Linked DNA regions of Homo sapiens. The protein of the gene in region 2 interacts with the protein of the main gene of each other region in a biochemical or structural test. Each region holds a gene or a part of one and is shown on either strand. Other genes may lie near its edges.

Region 1 (5,765 bases), on a different chromosome or scaffold from region 2:
TCCGGTGCCCTACCAGAACTATTACGATCGGGAGGTCACCCCGCTGACCAGCAGCCCTGGCATACAGCCGTCCTGCGGCATGATAAAGAGGTGAGGCCCCGACAGACGGAGGGAGGGCCTAAGGCTGGGCCAGGAAGTGGGTCGAGCCCCTCCTCTGCACCTGGCCCTTCCTCGTTCACTGAGCACCTACTATGTGTCTGTATCTGGTGCCCAGTTTAGGTGCTGGGCACTCTGTGGAGACAAGATAGGCTCAGTTCAGCCTATGGAACCCTCAGCCCAAGGGACCCAGACACTAGAATAATCACACCCCAATTATTCACTAGGGGAGGTGCTCCGAGCTCTGGGGAGGCCCCTATGCTGGCTTCCTTGTCCCTGGGGCCTCATGTGAGCCTGGTGCCCTGTCAGGCTGCAGTGGCAACGCTGTCTGGCTGGAGCAGGACTGGGGCATCTGGAGAATTCTCCAGGCTTTTCCAGGGCTCCTTCCCCGGCCTGGCTGCAGTCAAGTGCCAAGGTCCTAGTGCTGGGCCTCAATGTGTGACCTGGGCAAGTCATTCACACTCTCTAAGGCCAGGGCCCTGAGTGTTGGGGTCAGATTCAGAATCTAAGGACTCTCCTGGTTCAGGCCTTGAGTGACGAAGGTGACAGCCCATTGGGAGCACTATAGCCAGCTTAGGGAGCCCTCGTAGCCAGGCCTTTGAGGGAGGCCATGTGCCCTGTGAGCATCCACAAGGGTCTGTGGGTTTCACATGGTGCCTGTGCCCCCACCGCCATGCCACCACTCTTCAGCCACCCTTCAACCAAGAAGGCCCTGCCTCTGGGAGGTAGTGGACTGTGGGGAGAGGCTGATGCAGTTCCCGGCCCTTCCCAAGGACCAGCTCATTCCAGGGCCTCAGGAGCCCCTGGAACTTCCTACTCCTGGGAGGCAGAGGCTCGTGGGAACCACCCGTGCTTAGAGAGGGCACACACACACCCTCTTTGAGAATCTTGTGCAAGCAGTGACCCCAGGAGGCAGCACACCCGCAGCCTCACATGCTACAAAAGCTTGTGAGACAGGCTTCCCTGTGCCTGGTGAGGACCTGGATCCCAGCAAAGGTGGTCATTTAAGCAACTGGACAAAAGAGCTCACCTGAAGCAGTATCAGGAAGGGGCAGAAAGGAGTGGCCCCAGAGAGGATTAGAGAGAGAGAGAGAGATGTCCTGCAGGGCCGAGGGAGGCCTGGCTGCTGGAGGGGGCTGGTCAGGCCTCTGGATGGGGCATCTAGAAGCCAGGCAGGACTGGGAAGAGGCGGGGGTCAGTGACTGGGAGTCAGAAGTGTAGACAGTCTGGGGAAAAGAGGTGTGGGGGCACGCAGCACAATGGCTCAGCAAGCCCTGCACCCCTTTCCCCCTGCCCTGGCCGCTTCCTCCACCTGTCCCCAGCCCCTGCTGGCTTGCACCCTGTCCTTTGCTGCCTGGGGAGCTGGCACGTGTGTCTGCCCGCCTGTGTTGGTGTCAGGCCCTCCCATGTGCTGGGTCCACGCATGTCCACCCTGCGCATGTGTGTGCACTCCTGGGGCCTTGGCCCTCGGCGCCTCATGTGGGAAAGGCCCCCCACATGCCACCTTGAATTGCAGGGCTGCCCCCCACAGGCCCCTGAGTCATGGCTCAGCCCCTCACCTGCATTCAAGATCCCTCAGGGTCTGGTCCAGTCTCTATTTCAGTCCTGTCCCCCACACACCCAAATTGGTCCACTCCACTCCACAAACCCCACCTGTGCCATGCCTCCTCCCCTGCACCTGAGCCCTCCCTCTCCTGGTCACCTGCAGTGCCTCGCTCCCCCTTCTCTCCTAGTAAAGCTTCACTCATCTTTGAAGACTCAGCCCCACCCCACTAAGAAGCCCTCTTGCCTTGGAGGCAGTGTCAGCCTCTACTTGTTGAGCCCTCACTACTGCCCACTTCAGGGGGTGCCCCCAGCATCTGCCGCATCTGCCTCTTCTGTTTTATTTTCCTTTATTCAGTAAACCTTCATGACCCCAGCTCAGTCCAGGCCTAAGCCTGGTGCAGGGGCAGGGGTAAAGTAGCCCAGCGCTGTCCCGGAACTCCTGTGAACAGGGTGGCTGAGCTGGCCTGATCACCGTGGGCCCACAGGGAGGAGGGCTGGCTCGGCCCAGGCAGTGGAGGCCTCAGCAGGGCACGTGAGCCAGGCTTTGTGTGGCAGTGCACCCCCCACCCCTACCCATGGGGGAAGCTGCTAGGGCAAGCTAGAGCAGGGGCCTGGAGGGTGAGGACTGGGCATCTTCCCACGAGGCCTCAGTGCGGAGGTCCTAGAACCCCCAAAGGGCCATGGGAGTCTTCCAATGAAGCTACAGCTTCGGGGGTTCTAGGATCCTCCCAAGGGCCCTGCAGGGAGCAGGTGCTGAGATGGCCTGCAGAGGGCGCCAGTGGAGGGCGTAGCTGGGGAAGGAGGAGCCACCAGGACTACTTTCTGGGGAGCCCTCCTGCCTGAGGGGCACCTCATAAATGACATCCATGCCTGGAGGCTAGGGGCAGTCCCAGCCCTGGCAGAGCGCGTGCAGCTCTGAGACCTCTCCCTGTCTAAACCCTCCCTCCTGGTGGGTCCCTGAGTGTGGGGCGGGGACACTCACCCTCTTTCCTCCCTGTTCCCAGGTTCTCTGGACTGCTGCACGGAAGTCCCAAGACCACTTCGTTGGCAGCTTCTGCTGGTAAAGGGGGTCAGGAGGGGACCCCCAAACACACTGATCCTGGGGGGGAGGAGAGGTCTCCCACATGGCACAGATGGGGCCACTGAGGCCCTCAAGAGGAAGTGTGTGTCCCCCAACAGCAAGTGTGGACAGCAGAAGGAAGAGGCAGGGCCCAGCATGGAGAAACCCCATTCTAGTAGGACTTCCAGGGGCCAGTGTCCCCAGAAGGGGAGGGGTCTATGTCTCACCCTGCTCTTAGCGTCCACAGAGACCCTGACCCCCACCCCCGAGCGGAATGAGGGTGTCTACACAGCCATCGCAGTGCAGGAGATACAGGGAAACCCGGCCTCACCAGCCCAGGAGTACCGGGCGCTCTACGATTATACAGCGCAGGTGAGGCCTCTATACCCCAAACCCACCTGTGCCACCTCCCCTGCACCTGAGAGCTCCCTCTCCCATCCAGTGCCTTGCGTCCTCATCTCTCCTCATGGTTTCACTCATCTTCGAGCATCCTCTCCTCCTCAGGAGGGCACGTGTGCCCGAGTGTGTCCACACTAGCAAGGGTACCTGGGAGTGTGCTTGGATGTGAGCTCTGAGAACAGCACCCAGGGCTTGCGGGGCCTCAGTGTGCATGTACTGACTGGAAGCTGGTGTGCAGCAGGCCTGTGTCTGCCCGGGCCTGTACACAGCACACACGTGGAGCACATGTACCTATGCCGTCCACACAGGCTGGGCGCTGAGTGGTGCACACGTGCGGGGAGCTGGCAGAGCCTGGAGCTGCCTGCAGGTCATAGCTTGAGGGCCAGGCTCTGTGCCTTTGGGTCAGGGCCCTGTCCTTCGTGGCCATGGGTGTGGAAAACTGTGGCCAGAATGAGTCTTGCTATCGTGCCAGGATTGATTTTCTGATGTCCATAGGGTGAGGATGAACCAAGGCAGCCACAGGGCAGCTATGAGAGTCCTTTCTGCTCCCTGCTTGAGGGGAAGAATGCATAGCCAGACCTCACATCCACCTGGACTGAGGCCAAGCACCCCCACATAGCCAGGCAGGCTGGGTGTGGACTCCACTGATGAGGCCAGGGCTCGGGGAGGCAGGGAAGCCAGGCCAGGAGAGTGATGGGGTACTTGGATGGCAGTGGCTAGCTGGGGCTGGGGACCGCAAAGGGGAGGCTTGTGGTAAGCTTAGGCATGAGTGTGCCCTGGGCTTGGGGTATGATGAGCACCCGTGACCCCTGACATGCTCCAGTCACTGCGTCTCCAGAATGGGAGAGGGGAGGTGAGGCTGGGAAGAAACCCAGGTTGGGGGAGAACTATGATGACAAACTGAGGGGGATGGGAGGCCCGGTCCGTTGGGTTACCCCCATCCTGTGTCCCCAAGGGGCTGCCCCTGCCCACCCTGGGAGACATGCCGCATTTACTGCTGGGTGGGGGAACGCCAGGCCCCTCCCTGCAGGCCCTTCCCTGCAGGCCCTTCCAACGTCATGCGCTTTCAATCTCTTGGCCAGAACCCAGATGAGCTGGACCTGTCCGCGGGAGACATCCTGGAGGTGATCCTGGAAGGGGAGGATGGCTGGTGGACTGTGGAGAGGAACGGGCAGCGTGGCTTCGTCCCTGGTTCCTACCTGGAGAAGCTTTGAGGAAGGGCCAGGAGCCCCTTCGGACCTGCCCTGCCAGTGGAGCCAGCAGTGCCCCCAGCACTGTCCCCACCTTGCTAGGGCCCAGAACCAAGCGTCCCCCAGCCCCGAGAGGGAGCCTGTCGTCTCCCAGGGAATAAAGGAGTGCGTTCTGTTCTCCTTGGTGTGCTGGGGTCCCGTTCTCTTTTTCTCCTGCTCCAGTGTCCGAGTGCTCAGTTCAGAGGAGGCAAAGGAACAAGGGAAGGAGCCTGGATGTGGAGCTCCCCAACTCAGCCGAGGCTTCAGCTATAGTTGGAGAAGAGGCCTGGCCCCAGTTGCTAGGAGCTCCCAGACTGCCAAGGAGACACATTCACACCTGGACAGAGGACACAGGGGTGCAGGAGGATGTGGCAGGGGCAAGAAGGGGCTCAGCAGGGCTGCAATGGGGAGAGCAGGCTTCTTGGGGGCGGAGGGTTGAGCAGGTCCATGGCTGGGCAGCAGTGGCCAGGCCAGGGCAAGTGCGTGGGCAAAGGTGAGGTTGGGGGTACACCCAGGAATATTCGGAGGACTCAGTTTGGAAACAGGAAGCTGGTGATGGATCTGTTGGAGAGGCCATGGTGGGAGCCCAGGAAGACAGGCTTGTGGCTTGTGGGTGCAAGTGGGGCCTGGGGAAGCCACTGCTGCCCATGACACTCCCCTCAACATGGCAACCCCGGCCGAGCAGGGGTCCACAGCCCAGGCACGTTGGCCCCGGGCACAGAGGGAGCTGTTCTTGAAGGCCTTCAGCCCCTTCTCTTTTTAGTCCCAGGAACATAACTTTCACTGCTGGCCAAGCCCTGCTCCAACCATGATAGGCTTCATCCATGCCAAAGGCATTGGGAGTGGGTGTGGAGGAGAGGGCCCCTGGCCATTGACCACTCCTCAGTCCTGGGAGTGGCCAAGCCGGCCCACCTCACACCCTCCTGGGATCCCCACCCGGCTTCGGAGCCAGGCAGGCCCAGGACTGTAAGGGGCGGGATGGGGGACACAGTGGTCCTCCTCTGCTGGGACCACACTGATGAGCTGCTGCAGGGCACTGCTGTTCCCCATGGGGAGGGGGGAGAGAGAAAGGAGGGAGGGGGGAGAGAGAGAAAGGAGGGAGGGGGGGAGAGAGAGAGAGAGAAAGGAGGGGGAGAAAGGAGGGAGGGGGAGAGAGAGAGAAAGGAGGGAGGGGGAGAGAGAGAGAAAGGAGGGAGGGGGAGAGAGACAGAATGCCCATCTTTATACCCTGATCTTTACTTGAGCAAAAAATTGGGTTCAGTTAAGCAAGCATGAGACATGGACATTCTAATGACTCATGTGTGGCCCACACTGTACCTGATGATGGGGGTGTGGTGCTAAAAGGGGCCTCAAAGAGCTCACTCAGCCCAGGAGGACAGACAGCCACCCTCTAGGCCCTGAGATGTGAGGCAGTAAGTGGGGGGAGTGGTTCCAGG
Region 2 (8,338 bases):
GCAGAGGTACTGCTCCTTGCAGAGCAAGTATACACCACAGGCAGTGTGCCCAGAGTATCAGCTTAAAGGCAGTTCTGCAGTCCTATTTATACCCATTTTAATTATATGCAAATTAAAGGGCAGATTATGCAGAAATTTCTAGGAAAAGGGTGGTAACTTCTGGGTCGCCAGGTCATTGCCATGGAAAAAGGTGGTAGAAGTTGGTTATTGCCATGGCAACAGTAAACTGACATGGCACACTGGTGAGCATGTTTTATGGAAAGCTGCTTCCACCTATCTCTGTTTTAGCTAGTCCTCAATTTGGTCCAGTGTCCAAGCCCCACCTCCAGAGTCAAGTTCCACCTCCTACTTCAGTGCCACCCTAAAACATGCCTTTTTAACATATGGTTTTTTTTTGAGCAAAAGGCCATCATGAACCAGCAGAGGCAGTAAAAGCTTTAAAAACATGGCACAATATTTTTCTTTTGTAAAGAAAATTTACAATTTCTGAAGAAAATAGCCGTTTGTAAAAGGTATCTCCCTCTCCTGTATCAGGAAGAGGAGGACTCTTAACAACTCTTATCAATGGAGAAGGCATTGGCTTCAATCTGCATAACAAACCTTACTAAACACATCTTGTTGTTTGGCACACTTTTCCTGGTCATTGGGTAACTTGCCTCCCCAACCTAGAAGCCCCAAATCGCTTTTTCTTTGTTTAGTCTAATATACTCTATAAGTCCAAGTTCTAACATCCCTTTGGGTTACTCACCACTGGGTGCTCCCATGTTTATGAGGGATACACATCTTAATCAACTTCAATGTGCCTTTCCCTTCTTAACCTGTCTTTTCCCAGTCTGGTTTACAGGGCTCCAGCCAGAGAACCTAAGACAAGAAGAGGAAAAAGATTACTTTTCACCTCTCCTACAATTGGGACCTGTTTTTGTCATATTCCACAGCTTGTCTATATCATGATTTACTTAACCAATTTCCTTCTCTTAGACATTTAAATTGTTTCCAATTTTGTCTTTAAAATACTGCAGCATATAAATTTATAGCCAAGTCTAGTACATAGCCTTCATTATTTCCTTATGATAAAATCATCCTTGTGGATTTGTTAGAAATCCACAAATGTTTGATACTCTAATTCACACTGACAAATTGCCCACCAGAAACTATACCTACTTGCAATTCTCCTGGCCATATACAAGAATGCCCATTTACACCATCATCAACACTATGTTTTCATTTTTCAAATGAAGATGAAAAATGCATCTATGTTAAAACTGACATTTCTTTATTAATAAATAGAAATAAAATTTTTCTTTTGTGGATTGCTCCTTTTATGACTTTGACCCATTTTAGTTTTAAGGTGTCTATCTTTTCTATGTTTACAAGAAAAATTTAATACTAAAAATTTAATGTTGGCCAGGCACGGTGGCCCACACCTGTCATCCCAACACTTTGGGAGGCCAAGGTGGGAGGATCACTTGAGCCCAGGAGTTCAAGATGAGCCTGGGCAACATAGTGAGACCCCCCGTCTCTACAAAAAATAAAAAAATTAGCCAGGCATGGTGCCACATGTCTGTAGTCCCAGCTACTCAGGAGGCTGAAGCAGGAGGATCACTTGAGCTCAGGAGGTCAAGGCTGCAGTATGCTGTGGTGCTGTGGTCATACCACTGCACTCCATCTTGAGCAACAGAGCAAGACCCTGTCTCTAAAATTAAAAAAAAATTGTTATGCCTTTGTCATGTATCTTGCAAGTAATTTGCTCCTTTTAGTACGTTGTCTTTAATTTTTTTATGGCTTTTTACATAGAAAGTTTTCACATTTTACAGAGTCAAATCTACTGACCTCTTTCTTTTTCATTGTTTCTGCCCTTGAAGCCATGCTCATCACTCAGAATTGAATTAGTTTTAGAGGAGCAAAATTAATGTTTCAAATAGAGGAACAGAAAGCTGCTCTTCACATGCTCCATGAGGAAAGTGTGAGGAAGAGAGGACAAGCGCCCTCCAAAGCTGAGATGGGTCAGAGGATGGCTGGCGCCACCTTCTCTCCACCAGGCCTTGACACACTGGAGTTGGATGGCAGCTGGTGGGTCAGCCACTCACAAACAGGAAGCTCCATGCTGCTCCTCTGGGTTGGCGATACTTTTGAAAAAATACGTGTGCCCTAAGCATCCTTTCTTAAAAAGACATTTTTTATTAACAAAAAAGGTGCTTATTTCCAAAATTTTAAACTTCACAGAAATAAATAAAATGTGAAAGAAACATAAAATCCTGGGACCCCAATTCATTATGCCAAAAGGAAAAATTAAGCTGAAAGTTGAGTCACACAAGAAACTGCCTTTCCTTGAGTTCCTAAGCAGAGAGTTACAGATAAAAAGCTGCTGTCTCCACGGGTAGCTACTCTATGTTCACCTTATCTTAAGAAAGTGCCAATTTACTGAGCATGAGAAGAATACAAATTGACCATTCCCCTACCTACTTTTTTTCTCTTGCAACATATGGATTCAGTAATGTGACTGTACCCTCCCTCCTTCCCCTCTGGCCAGCTTTTCCCCTTAACTGAAGGTTTTGAAATAATCTTGAGAAAAAGGCACAAACCACAGATTTTTCCTGTGGTTCTGTGTTCCTTTTTGTCCCTAATGTTGATGAAATAAACTTCTAAATTGATTGAGATCTGTCTCAAATTCTTTTTGGTTTACAAAGGTAAGAAGTGAAAATTTCATTTCAGTTCTCTCACAATCTAATACCTGAAAGACAAGCACTGTAAAAAAATTCAGCATCAACCCTTTCAGGCTTTTTTCCAACACATACCTTAATAACAACATAGTATGCTATGGTATACTGGTATACCCATAGCATAGTATAAACATAGTATCATATATAAAAAGGACTAATCCTATAGATATTGTTTTGCAATGTGCTCTTTTCATGTGATTTACCAAAAGCATCTTTCCATGTCTTACTTTTAGGCCTATGTTATACTATTTTGATGGTTATACAATATTTCATAATATGGATATACCATAATTTTAGTTGTTTGCAATTTTTTATTACAAAAATGCTACAACAAACGTCCTTGAACAGAATTTTAAAACATCTGTGCAATCATTTCTGTGGGATAGATTTCTCAAATTAAAATCACTAGGTGAGAAAAAGACATAAATTTTAAAGTTTGGTGGAAATGATAAATTCCTTTCCCCAGAAGGTATTGATTTACATTCCCTCTGATGTTGTATGAGGGTTCATTTCTCCACACACTCATGTTAATAATGTAAATTATCATCTTTTCTAATTTTACCAATCTGATGGTGAAAAATGGTATTTTATAGCTAAGATATATACATATATTTTTGGTCACATTAGACTCCTCTTGTAGGTTTGATATTTCTTCTGCGAAATATTTCTTCTGCAAGCTGATCATTTATATCATTTGCCCATTTTAAAAACTACTTTGTATTGATTGGTAAGAATTATTGGTAAGAATATTTTGAATATTAATAATTTTATATATATTGCAAATATTTTGTCACGCCTTTTCATTTTGTTCCTTATTTCTTCATCTGCATGTAAATCTTACTTCTTTATATCATCAGTTGTGTTCATCTTTTCTTTCTTACTTTGGATTATATGTTATATGTAGCCAGGCCTTCCATACTCAAACTATAGGAATATCTTTCTATATTGTCCTTTTAGCATTATTGTTATTATTTTATTTATTTAGTTATTTATTTTGAGACAGAGTCTCACTCTGCTCCCCAGGCTGGAGTGCAGTGGCACAATCCTGGCTCACTGCAACCTCCGCTTCCCAGATTCAAGCAATTTGCCTGCCTCAGCCTCCTGAGTAGCTGGGATTACAGGCGCACATCACCACACCTGGCTAATTTTTGTATTTTTAGTAGAGATGGGTTTCACCATGTTGGCCAGGCTGGTCTTGAACTCCTGACCTCAGGTGAGGAGGTCCGCCTCGACCTCCCAGAGTGCTGGGATTATAGCTGTGATCCACCACCCCCGGCCTCCTTTTAGCATTATTATAGTATTTTTGCATTTAAAACTTTAATCCAACTGTAGTTCATTATTGTGGATGACGCTCATACAACCATGAGGTAAATATTTGGCTTTCTTTTACCCAGTAACAGCAAACAACTGCTTTGACTTAATTTCATTTCCTTGGCAACTTTCTGACAGATAATATCCATATTTGTACTTAAAGTTGAAAAAGAAAACGAGCACCACTTTTGCAATTTTTACTCACTGTGACCTAAAGAATTATAACCCTGAAAATGTGCTTTGGAAGTCTGTCATGGTTATTTCTCTTTTTAGGCATCTTTTCAGGGCACACCCGTCTCTGCATCACTGTCTGTTTCCTTGTGTCACAAATTTCTGTTCTTTTTTTCTCTCCCTGTTCCCTCTCATTTATTTTTTCTCCTAATCTCTCCTTTTTCTTAACCACCTATAATGTTAATCACTTTAAATGCTTTTGACTCCTTTGTTTTGGTAGTTTAATTATATTTCATAGTCTCTATGCTTCTTTGTTTTGGAATAAGTTTTTATTTATCTAACTGTGAATTTCACTAGAGTTGTAAAATGTATGCCGAACATAGGATTTGGGGATTGCAAGCATTTACAGCTGATATTCAATTTCTTTCTTTTCACCACAAAAACGATTTTAGAACATGAAAAATATCTTTGGAGAAACAAAAAAATCAATTTCCTCATCATTTTATGGGTCTACATTTTTCAATATAATCATATGGGATAAATGTTTGCATTCTGCTATTGGCTTGTGAACATTTACCTATATTTCTATGTGGTCTTGTTAGGGACAGTATACCTAAGTGGATAAAAGGCTGTGTGGTTGAATTTGGCTTCTTGTTTACAAAAGAGTGATCCTTAGTGATCTACTTAGCCTCTCTGTTCCTTTTCTCTTTCACTGAGATGAGAAAACCTATCCTTCCCAATTTTTTTGTGTGAGAATTAAAATGCAGCAAGAAAACACACACTCATAAACACATCTGCTTTGGCAAAGGAGCACATCAGAAGGGCTGGCTTGTGCGCGCTCTTGCTCTCTGTGTATGTGTATTATGTTTTATGTTACTGTAAAAGATGTAAAGAGAGGCACGTGGTTAAGCTCTCGGGGTGTGGACTCCACCAGTCTCACTTCAGTTCCTTTTGCATGAAGAGCTCAGAATCAAAAGAGGAAACCAACCCCTAAGATGAGCTTTCCATGTAAATTTGTAGCCAGCTTCCTTCTGATTTTCAATGTTTCTTCCAAAGGTAAGCATAAGAGTCAAAGAAGTCCCAACCCAGCTTTCCCTGAAAGTGACTCTCAGTAACTCTTTTGCTTTTTATAGGTGCAGTCTCCAAAGAGATTACGAATGCCTTGGAAACCTGGGGTGCCTTGGGTCAGGACATCAACTTGGACATTCCTAGTTTTCAAATGAGTGATGATATTGACGATATAAAATGGGAAAAAACTTCAGACAAGAAAAAGATTGCACAATTCAGAAAAGAGAAAGAGACTTTCAAGGAAAAAGATACATATAAGCTATTTAAAAATGGAACTCTGAAAATTAAGCATCTGAAGACCGATGATCAGGATATCTACAAGGTATCAATATATGATACAAAAGGAAAAAATGTGTTGGAAAAAATATTTGATTTGAAGATTCAAGGTAAGTGTTCATTCCCTTAATTGCTTTATTTCAGTGTGGGTGCTATTTGGCAAGTTGGAAAATAGCATTTCTAATATTCCCCAGCGCTGACCTCTGCCTCCAGGGGGGCTATACAGGAAACCAGATGCATGTCTCCTGCCCCAGTGGAGACTGTGGTCCAATGCGGGAATGGGATCCACACATCTGATAGACCCTCAAGTCTACCTGCCTACAACTCTGTCTTCAGGTGGTTACAGGAATGTGGGGTTGGGTGAAGAACCTGGATTAAGGTGGCATTAATCGGGAGGGGGACACAGGTAGGCCGAGGGAAAAGGCAACTGTTCCAGGTTGCTGATGAATCGGCGAGCTAAGAGTGGGGCGAGAAGAAGAGGCTGACTGGAGAGCAGCGGGCCTTTCATCGACAGAGCCCATTTCAAGCCAGGCTGCCCTGAAGGAGGAGTTATATGGCAGAAAAGGGCTGGAAACAACATATTTAAGGATGAACAGCCCTTATTTTGGATCTGCTTGTCAGAGTGATACAAGGTGGCAGGTGATTTTTGCTGATATGTGTAGAAGATGCACAAGGTGTGGCTTTGTATATCTCTGCCTGTACTGGGAGGACAGGAGTGGATATTGAGGATGGGGTTAGGGAGACTAGTTAGAAAGCTGCTGCTGTAATCCAAGTGGAGTGAGGACCAATTAAATCAGATTTTTTTTGCATGCGGCCTGGGTATCATTAGGTTCTAAAGCTCCCTGGGGGATTCTAATGAGCTGCCAAAGTCAATCGCCACTGGCCTAGACCAAAGGGTGCCTCTAAAATAGGAAGAATGAGGATAATAAGGGTCAGGCATAGAGAAAGGTGGCTTAGGCAAGGGAGAGAAGGTAGAGAAAGTGGAATCGAAATGCCATTGAAGTTGAAAGCCCGGGGGGATGCTGGGGAAGTAGTGACAAGAAGGGAAAAGAAGAAGCTGCGCTTGACTTGGGGAGGCAGACAGGAACCCCAGCATGAGCACAGGCCAGCCATTCAGTGAGCAAATAAGCATTTCTGTGCTTCACACAGAAAATATCACCAGAAGCAGGGACCCCACCTTCTTCCTCTCTGTCTCCAGCCCCATCTTCAGCACCTGGGCCTACCAGCAATCCCAGATAGTGTCAGATTGCCCACTCCAGCAATCCCAGACACTGTCAGCTCCCCTGAAGTGACAACTTTCCACACCCTAGTCCTGCAACCTTGAGTGGAGAGCACCTTGTAGAAATGTAGTGGGGTTGAGCATGGCGCTGAAAAGGGCCTCTGATTATGGGCTCTGGAAACCACAGATCTCAGGACTCCAAACAGCACAAAACTCGAGTGTCCTGTTTTGAGTGTGAGCCCTACGCGGGGGACCATGCTGGTGTTTTCACATTTGGGTCGCATTTAGCATTGCGGCGGAAATAATGGCTACCAGTTAGGGGTCAAGTGCTTGCTTACATGATCTTATTTAAAGCGCCCAACAATACTGAGACCTAGTTGTTATTATCTCCTTGTTATATATAAGAAAACAGAGACCTAGTCAGAAGCAGCTTGTCCAAGGTCTCATTGCTTGACAGGAGCAAAGTCAGGATTCAAACTCAGAGGTCTTTTTGGCAAGAATGACGACCTTTTCTTTTTTTTTCCAAGCAGCTTCATTGAGATAATTCATCTACCATTCAATTTGTCCATATACTAAAATGGCCTTCAGTATATTCAGAGTTTTGTAACCATCACCACAATCAACATTTTCATTGCCCCAAAAAGAAACCCTTCACCCTTTAGCCGAAAGACAGTGACTTGCTTTATGTGTGTGCACGTCAATGTCATACAACATCTTGATTCAACTTGTAGTTGGTCACTATTACCAGACTTAAGGTGACCATGGCCTTGGGCAAATTCCCTATCTGCTGTGAGTCTGCTTTTCCAATGACAACTTCAAGGGATATTCAGTGAGACAAGGTGTGTACAAGTGTCCTGCAGTGCCTGGGGCACAATGCCTGTTTTCTCAGTGCTAATGCCCTCCCACATCTCTTTGTTTCTCCAAGCTTCTCTTTTTTTTTTTTTTTTTTTAATTGAGATGGCATCTTGCTCTGTTGCCCAGGCTGGAGTGCACTGGCATGATCTCAGCTCACTGCAGCCTCTGCCTCCCAGGTTCAAGCGATTCTCCTGCCTCAGCCTCCCAAGTAGCTGGGATTACAGGCATGTACCACCACGTCCGGCTAATTTTTGTATTTTTAGTAGAGACGGGGTTTCGCCATGTTGGTCAGGCTGGTCTCAAACTCCTGACCTCAGGGGATCCGCCTGCATCGGCCTCCCAAAGTGCTGGGATTACAGGTGTGAACCACGCACCCGGCCTCCAAACTTCTCAAACTCCAGTAGTTGTGCCTGCATTTCCTTCATGAGGGAGTTGCTGCTGCAGGCTGAAGAGGCAATGGAGGGCCCCTTAGAAGCAGATGCTAGTAGGGAAGGGGTTAATCCCAGCAACTCAGAATTAAGGAGTTCTCATCCATGGAAGGCCTTAGGTTGGATCAGTTCTAAGACGCTATCTTAGTGAATGTATACGGAGGTACTACTCCACAAGGGTGCCCATCACTGCATTATTCATGTTAGCGAAATACTAGAACAGTCAGCAGTTAGAAACTTATTAATCAGTTAAATTAAGAATGCATCCTTTAAAAAGATGCATATATGCA
Region 3 (8,311 bases), about 44 Mb from region 2:
CAGAGTCTGTGTGCATAGTAGTTAGGCATGCCAGCTGGAGCATCAGACAGACGTAGATTTGAATTTTGATTCTGGTTCTAATTAGCAAAATGCCCTTGGGCAAGCCATTTGACTTGTCTGAACCTCAGTTATCTCTTCCGTAAAATAAGAATAGTGTTTATAAATATCCTCATGTGAATGTTGGAGGATTATTATTTTGTTGTTTTGTTGTTGTTTTTGTTTTTGAAACCTGATCCTTCTGTAAAATGTTGGAGGATTAAATGAGATAATATAGGCAAAGGTCCTGGCAAGTACTTGACTTAGTAGATACACAGAAAATAATAGCTTCTGTCATTACTATCACTTTGTCAAAGTCAAGCAGTAGGTCAAGTGCCCACCAGATTAGATACTGAGAAGAGTGTGTATTTTAATTCACATCATGAGGATTGTTGACCTGTACTTCATCTTCTAGGGTCTTTGCAGCCCCACCTCTGGGTATGCCCAAACTTCAGGGATTTCTGCAACCAGGGCTTTGGTGCAAGAACAGCTGATTCACTTAGGGCAGGGAGAGGGCTTTTGAGCCTTTATTGGTCACTTCTCTCAGACTTGTTTTTGAATCTATGCAGAAGCCTAACTAGCTAGTCCTGAACCTCAGAATGGGCACCCATAGTACTTCAGTGCCCGCTGTTACCATGCAAAAGGAGGAAGATTCCTTGGCTTAAGTTTATATTTCATCCTTTGTTTTAACATCAGCCTATATCCCATGGCTATTAATTCACATCTAAGCAGACTGTTGAGAATTATAGAGCTGTTTACTTGTCAATCTAAAAGAAAGAGGCTGAAACACAAAATATGATTTGAAGACTTTACTTGAGCCAAAGGGAGGACAGCTGCCTGGAAGACTCAGACCCAAGTAAAATTGGTTTTGAGCTCTGCTCAGCCTTTGTTACAAGCAGGTTTTTAAAGGCAAAAAAAGTGATACAAAGTTTTTTTTTTGGAATTCTCATTGGTTTGCAGAAATAACATTAATTAGTGATTGGTTACATATTGTTAAGCTGTAAGGTGTGGGTTATATGTCCAGTGCAGCATTATTAGATTAATTTATGGTTACTTGCAGCAATAGCAAGTAGTTTTAAGAGGTGAATACATAGCCCAAAGGTGGAGTAGGGGGAAGTAAAATGTGATTTCTGTCTCATTTAAATGTCTCTCTGATAATTTGAAGGACTCACATTCTTCAGATAAAAGTTCTTTCCTTTCTTCAACTTTTCACAACAACATTCAAAGGAGGTATTTTAACATTTATTTTTATTTTTACTTTTAGTAGAGATGGGGTTTTGCCATGTTGCCCAGGCTGCTCTCAAACTCCTGAGCTCAGGCAATCTGCCCTCCTCGGCCTCCCAAAGTGATAGCGACAGGAGACAGACAAATTCCTGGACAGATAGAAAAGGGTCCCTGGTGAAACTAGACTTTCAAGACAAAGACAGTTTAAAGCCTGAAAACTGGGCTGCCAGTTCTGGGTAGAGTCCACAACCAGAGTGAGAACTTCCTTGATACCTTTTAGCTAATCGAATGGTGCTTTTTCCAGGCCTGCCTATGGACAAATCTGAGCCGATGAAAACCCCAGACTCAGCCTCACAGAGGGCTACCTGTTTTGGGGCCCCTCTCACACAGTGGTCTACCCACTGTCTGGTCCCCTCTTTGCTGAGAGCTTTCCTTCTGTCACTCAATAAAATTATTCTCTGACCTACTCACTCTCCTTTGTCTGCATGCTTTATTCCTCTTGGTTGCAGGACAAGAACCCAGGACCTGCTGAGCTGCAGGTGGCAGGAACAAGCTGTAACATACCCGTATTTGCTGAGCTGTGGGCACTGGGACCAAGTGAGAGCTGTGACACACCCCCATTCACTGAACTGCAGGCAGCAAGACTAAATAAGAGCTGTGACATGCCCCCATTTGCTGAGCTGCAGGCAGTGGGACTGAACAAGAGCTGTGAGGTGCCCTCATTTGCTGAGCTGCAGGTGGCAGGAACAAGCTGTAACATACCCGTATTTGCTGAGCTGTGGGCACTGGGACCAAGTGAGAGCTGTGACACACCCCCATTCACTGAACTGCAGGCAGCAAGACTAAATAAGAGCTGTGACATGCCCCCATTTGCTGAGCTGCAGGCAGTGGGACTGAACAAGAGCTGTGAGGTGCCCTCATTTGCTGAGCTGCAGGTGGCAGGAACGAGAGAGAGAGCTGTAACATTTCTTGGGGTCTCAGGCCTTGGGATTCCCCAAGCAAAGCTGTAACACCCCTTAGGGCTCCGCAGTTGCTGGCATCTCCGAGTTTCTTAGTGCCACTGTGTTCCCTTCATTTAGACACTGGTGCCCAAGGTGGAAGCAGGTCACAGCACTCCCCGTCCTGCCACTGACTGAGTGTGGATCCTATGGCTCAGGAGTTCAAGACTGGCCTGGGCAACATGGTGAGACCTCATCTCTACAAAAAATTTTAAAAAAATAGCCATGCATAGTGGTCACTGTACTCCAGACTGGGTGACAGAGTGGGAGCCTGTGCCCCCCTCCCCCCAAAAAAGAGAATGTAACATTAATTTACAGGGTCTCTTTTAAAAATCTAATACAATGTTATCTTTTCTTGCTGAAGGAGCAGGGTCGTATCCTAAGGTTAAATCAATTTATAGGAAAAATATAACACACAGTTCCAAAGTGTAACAATTTGACCAAGAGGAATTTGATTCTGGTGCTGTTTCAAATTTTATTTGCAGGGTTCTTTCTTTTCACTTTTATGTTTTTTTCCCTTTTATTTTTAGTTGACATATAATAATTATACATATTTATGGGATACAGAGTAATATTTTGATACATGTATTCAATGTGTGATGATCAAATCAAAGCAATTAGGATACCTATCACCTCAAACATTGATCATTTCTTTGTGTTGGGAACATTCCAAATCCTCTCTTCTAGCTTTTTGAACATATACATTAAATTATTCTTAACTGTATTCACTCCATAGTGCTACAGGATGCTGGAACTTATTCCTCTTCTCTAGCTGTAACTTTGTATCTATTAACCAACTTCTTCCCATCCTCCACTTCCCTCTACCCTTCCCAGCCTCTGATAACCACAATTTTACTCTCTACTTCTATGAGCTCATTTTTTAAGCTTCCATATATGATTGGGAACGTGGTTTTTTATCTTTCTGTGCATGACTTATTTCACTTAACATAATGTCCTTCAGGTTTGAGGACTGAGAAGAGCAGACATTTTATTGTTCATCTCCATGTTGAGAATCAGAAATGTCCCCAATTAAAAAGTGATTACAAATATGTTATATCAGGAACTGTGGCTTGCCTGTGGGTCCTGGGTGGGCAAATAACTAATTTACATTCAATAGGAATGAGCTTGAAATTTCCTAGACATGATATGATTTGGCTGTGTTCCCTTCCAAATCTCATCTTGAATTGTAGTTCCCATAATCCCCACATATCATGGGAGCAACCCAGTAGGAAGTAAGTTAATCATACGAGCAGTTACCATCATGCTGTTCTCGTGATAGTGAGTTCTCACTAGATCTGATGGTTTCATAAGGAAGGGGCTTTCCCCATTGCTGCTCAGTGCTTCTCTTTCCTGCCACCGTGTGAAGAAGGACGTATTGGCTTCCCCTTGCACCATGATTGTAGGTTTCCTGAGGCTTCCCAAGCCATGCTGAACTAGAAGTCAATTTAACCACTTTCCTGGCCAGGCACAGGCCCATGCCTATAATCCCAGCACTTTGGGAGGCTGAGGCAGGTGGATCACTTGAGGTCAGGAGTTCAAGACCAGCCGGGCCAACATGGTGAAACCCTACTAAAAATACAAAAATTAGCTGGGCATGGTGGTGCTTGCCTGTAATCCCAGCTATGTAGGAGGCTGAGGCAGGAGAGTTGCTTGAACCTGTCAGGTGGAGGTTGCAGTGAGCTGAGATTGCACTGCTGCACTCCAGTCTGGGCTACAGAGTGAGACTGCATCTCAAAAAAAAAAAAAACCAAAACAAACAAAACAAAACAAAACCCCTCTCTTTCCTTTATAAATTACCCAGTCTGGGGTATGTCTTTATTAGCAGTGTGAGAACAGACTAATACAGACTACAAGGGTGGGAAATCCATTCTTTTGGGCCAAGTAATCTTACTTTTTTTCTGATGTTCAGTGGATAGGCTGATGTCAAACTTCAAATAGTGAATTATCATAAAGGAAGAAGAGCAGAGGGTGGTGCTGGGGGTAAGATATGCAGCACAAAGGCTACGTGGGTCTGATTTCCCAGACTTCAGGCTCTGAATGACACCTACCCAGGCTTGACTGGGAAGCTCCTATGTCTTAGCCCCTGAATTAATCAGAGGGATTCCTGCCTGGGAACGAAAAGCAGACATTCTCTATCAGGGTCCCTTATTCTTTTCTGAGTACTGGCCCCCCTGAGAGTACAGTAGAAGCTATGAATCTTCCCCCTACAAAAAAGCACTCATGTACCTTCAAACAAAATTGTTCTCAGTTTCCGTGATGCTCTTAGATAAAAAAATTTACAAGACCTCCGGTTTCTGGTTTCTGGGGCCCCACACAAGTGTGCTGGGTGGAGAGAAAATCTCAGTGGTTTTTTTTTTTTTCTCTCTAACCCTGTTTGGTAAGTTCCGTTTTTAGCCCCGGCCTTTTTCTAGCCAGGCTCTCAACTGTCTCCTGCGTTGCTGGGAAGTTCTGGAAGGAAGCATGTGCTCCAGAGGTTGGGATTCGTGTCTGGCTCTGGAATTGCTACTGCTGCCTCTGTCACTCCTGGTGACCAGCATTCAAGGTACTTTCCACCAACTGTGTATCTGTGATTGTGCACTGAAGGCATGGTCAGTTGGGAAAGGGGAGACGGGATGTAGTTCAACCCTAGAAGCCAGATCTGGTGTCTGGAAAGCAGGTATTTCCATTCCAATAGCATGGCCATGGCATGGTTGGGGAGCCTTTCTTAGCACTGATGAATGGAGCTTCATCTCCTTTCCCACGGGGATGTGATCAAAACAGGAACCTGGGGAGCAAGAGAAGTAGGCTCCTCATATTTTGTCCCGTGGTTGGTGGTCCATGAAGTTGTGGAAAAGTGTTTGTTTTTTCATTTTGAATAAGAAGAAGCTCTACACTGACAGCTGCTGCATTTTATGCTCAGACACACTGTACTCCCTTAGGCATTCTTTGAGACCTCTGTATATGTGAGGTGTTGCATCCTGAGCCAAGGTAAATGATATTGTCATTGACCCAAAGAAAAGATAGATCAAAATTATAGGAAGAAAAGCTTGGAAAGGATTGCTGTCTGGGGTCTCTGAATGAGGGTCTGAGAAGAGGCTGGAAGTGCTTCAGCATCAAAGGAACCTTAACACATCTGATTGCTAAGAGTTAAGGTCCATTCCTCTGCCACAGCCTGTTCGGTCCCCGGTGTGTGACCAAGGGCTGAGCTAACTTTCCTTCTCCTGTTAGAGCTGCCTCACCCTCTTTCTTCATCCAGTACCTCTCTTCTTATGCCAGCTGAGAAACAGCAGTGAAACCTTTGACTTTCTTGCTATTCCCCCAAGTAAATACTCAAGTCTTTTTAATTTAAAGGGCTTTAATGCTCACCACTCTGAGTAAAACAGTAAAAATCAACAAACATGTGGTAGTCACACTGTGGCATAAAATGATGATAGTTTGTAACTTTTGGGGAGATGAGGTAGAATGTGTGGAGGATCGGTCTCTCACATATTCTACCTCTCAGGTAGAGTCCTTTGGTTCATGACTGTGTGAGTCTACGGCTATATAGGTTCTGTGGGCCTGACTCAATGCATAGGACATTGGTATGACCTTGGGATTGGGGGCTGATGTGAAGTATTCATCTAACTATTGGGAAAAGCAGGGTTGCCAATGAGAATTGGAATATTTTAGGACTTTCTCTAGGCATACTGAAAACATCCTGACAGTTGACCTTTCTCTGACTTCTTTTCTAGGCTTCATCTTGGTCATTTATTCTTCTTTGAAACAATCAGACCACACCTGATTATGTTATCCTTTGAATGGATAATATTGGTTTTGATGAGGTTAGTAAACCTGGGTTATAACACCCGGGCTATAACCTGGGTTAGTAAAATACAAATTAAGCACTTACTGTGTGTCAGACATTGTGCTAGGCCTTTTGCATACTTTTTCATTTAACTTTCATTAGAAAATAGTGAGGTGGCTATTATTATCTACATTTTTCAGATGAGAATACTGTCTTGCAGAGAGATTAAGAAATTCTCCTAAGGGCACACAGGTCTAACTTCCAAACCATTCTATTATGATTATACCTTTCCTAGACTAAGGCGAGGGAATCTTGGTGAAGGTCAATGTGTCTAAATCTCTTAATTTTACTGTTTGCCTTAAAAGAGGCGTTTTCTCTTACCTCTGGGCTTATGTACATGCCTTCTTTCCACCTAGATTTCTCTCCCTCCTGCCCTCTCCCTGCCTCTCTTTTAGGCTTCTGTTTTTATGTGACTTCTTCTTGGACTGTCTGCCTGTGACTGTGTTCTGAAGGCATGGTTAGATGGGAACCTCAGGCTCCAGATTATGGTTTGTGAATTGCTTGGTGGATCATCTGTTTCCTTGAACTTTTTGAGGACAGAAACCATGTGCAGTGTTGTGCTGCTGAACTTAGCACAGGCCTGGAGTGTGGCATGTGCTCAATAAATAATTGTTACACAAATGAATGAACAACTTCAAAAAACTTCCTTTTGGACTACACATCCATATCTTCCTGAGAAGTGCAAGTAGTTCTCTCCTCTGCCGTAAGGGATGCTTCTGTGGAAAACTTTGAGAAGCACTCTTAGCTCTCTTCTTCCTTCTCTCCTCAGACTTGGGTTTCTCAGTTCTTTGGTTTCAAGGCAATGATTTAGGGCATGCTCCACAACTACCCAATTCCCCATCTGTCCACAACACTTAGCAGGATGAAGTAGACAGAGTATTGTACTAGAAATGAGATGACCTAGTTCTATCTGGGTTCCATGCTGTGGAATTTTCAACAAGTCATTAAAGCTTCCTGAGCCTCAGCTTCCTCAGCTCCATAATGGGTATAATAATCTGTTCCTCATTTCTTCAAGGGGTTGCTATTAAGATCAAATAAAATAAAAAATGTGCAATTGCTTTGCAATTGTGACACATGCGGAATCCGATACAGATGAAAACCTGGGAAGAGCATCAGTAAATTCTTAAGCCCCAAGCAGTCTCCTGAGCCCAAGATCAGAACTTCTGTCTCTTAAACATCTTCTCTAGACTCTCCAGACACGTGTCTAAAACTTAAGTCATCATCTCTGTTTCCGCTATGTATTGCTATTTAACAAGCTGCCACAATACCGTGGCTTAAAATAATAACAATGATTTACTTTGCCCACAGATTTGGGGGAAGACTGTTCATCCTGTCTCACTTTCATGTGCTTTTCATGTGCTTGCAATCAGATCATGGTGTGGCCTAGAGTCATGCAAGGCTCTTCACTCACAGGGCTACTGCCTGAACAGAGGGAGGCTCAAAGTGCTGGGTGGCTAGTGCCACTCAGCAGAAGCCTCCCAGAGTTGGTGTCCCAAGAGAAATAGGCAAATGCTGCATGGTCTTTTCTAAGCTAGCTTTGCAGGTCACACTTCCGGTGTATTCCATTCATTGAAGCCATCACCGAGCCTACTCAATTTCAAGGTGAAGGGGCACAAAGTCCATCATTTGATGAGAGGACCATCAAAAAATTTACAGACTTAAAAAAAAATACTACAATCCTTCTTCCCCCAAACCTACTGCTCCTCCACTGTTCCCCACCTCTATAAATGACATCTCCACTTGTCTAGTTGCTCAGGCCAGAATTCTAGGAGTCATCCTTGCTTCTTTTCTCTCCCTTGCTTCTCATGCCCAATGAGTAAGTCCTGTTAATTCTACTTTCAAAAATATCTCTCAAATATGTCCAATTCCATCCAGCCCCATGCTACCTATCTCAGATCAAGCCACCATTTTCTCTTATCACCAATTTCCACAATGATCCACTATCCTAACTGCTCTATTTACTGCATTCTCTCTAGCTAACCTGTTCTCTACCCTGCTGTCGGTATACATTTTCTAAAATGGTTCTCTGTTTGCATCACTCTTCTGCTTAAAATCTTTAGTGGCCACTGTGGGAAATGAGAAAGCAGAAGCTGTGAGCCTAAAGTTCACATTTCATAATGAGCTCACTTGCTACCCTCCTTAGTCTATGTCCTAGCCAGTGAGCTACTTCCTACTCCGCAAATGAATTTCATTTTTGTGTTTCTGGGCGTTTGATTCTTTTTCCCTCTTG

What was found.
Region 1: the proteins of CD2 (region 2) and PSTPIP1 form a complex in vitro, tested with the Homo sapiens proteins (one study listed by BioGRID and IntAct).
Region 3: the proteins of CD2 (region 2) and CD48 form a complex in vitro, tested with the Homo sapiens proteins (one study listed by BioGRID).

What each region holds. Positions count from the first base shown.
Region 1 is NC_000015.10:77,032,863-77,038,627, forward strand, and holds the end of PSTPIP1 (proline-serine-threonine phosphatase-interacting protein 1), read left to right. Parts: coding exon 1-90; intron 91-2,645; coding exon 2,646-2,701; intron 2,702-2,939; coding exon 2,940-3,073; intron 3,074-4,182; coding exon 4,183-4,314; 3' UTR 4,315-4,613; downstream 4,614-5,765. UniProt on the Homo sapiens protein: Involved in regulation of the actin cytoskeleton. May regulate WAS actin-bundling activity. Bridges the interaction between ABL1 and PTPN18 leading to ABL1 dephosphorylation.
Region 2 is NC_000001.11:116,749,296-116,757,633, forward strand, and holds the start of CD2 (T-cell surface antigen CD2 isoform 2 precursor), read left to right. Parts: upstream 1-5,134; 5' UTR 5,135-5,197; coding exon 5,198-5,258; intron 5,259-5,335; coding exon 5,336-5,656; intron 5,657-8,338. UniProt on the Homo sapiens protein: CD2 interacts with lymphocyte function-associated antigen CD58 (LFA-3) and CD48/BCM1 to mediate adhesion between T-cells and other cell types. CD2 is implicated in the triggering of T-cells, the cytoplasmic domain is implicated in the signaling function.
Region 3 is NC_000001.11:160,708,171-160,716,481, reverse strand, and holds the start of CD48 (CD48 antigen isoform 1 precursor), read left to right. Parts: upstream 1-4,659; 5' UTR 4,660-4,718; coding exon 4,719-4,800; intron 4,801-5,993; exon of another isoform or gene 5,994-6,058; intron 6,059-8,311. UniProt on the Homo sapiens protein: Glycosylphosphatidylinositol (GPI)-anchored cell surface glycoprotein that interacts via its N-terminal immunoglobulin domain with cell surface receptors including CD244/2B4 or CD2 to regulate immune cell function and activation.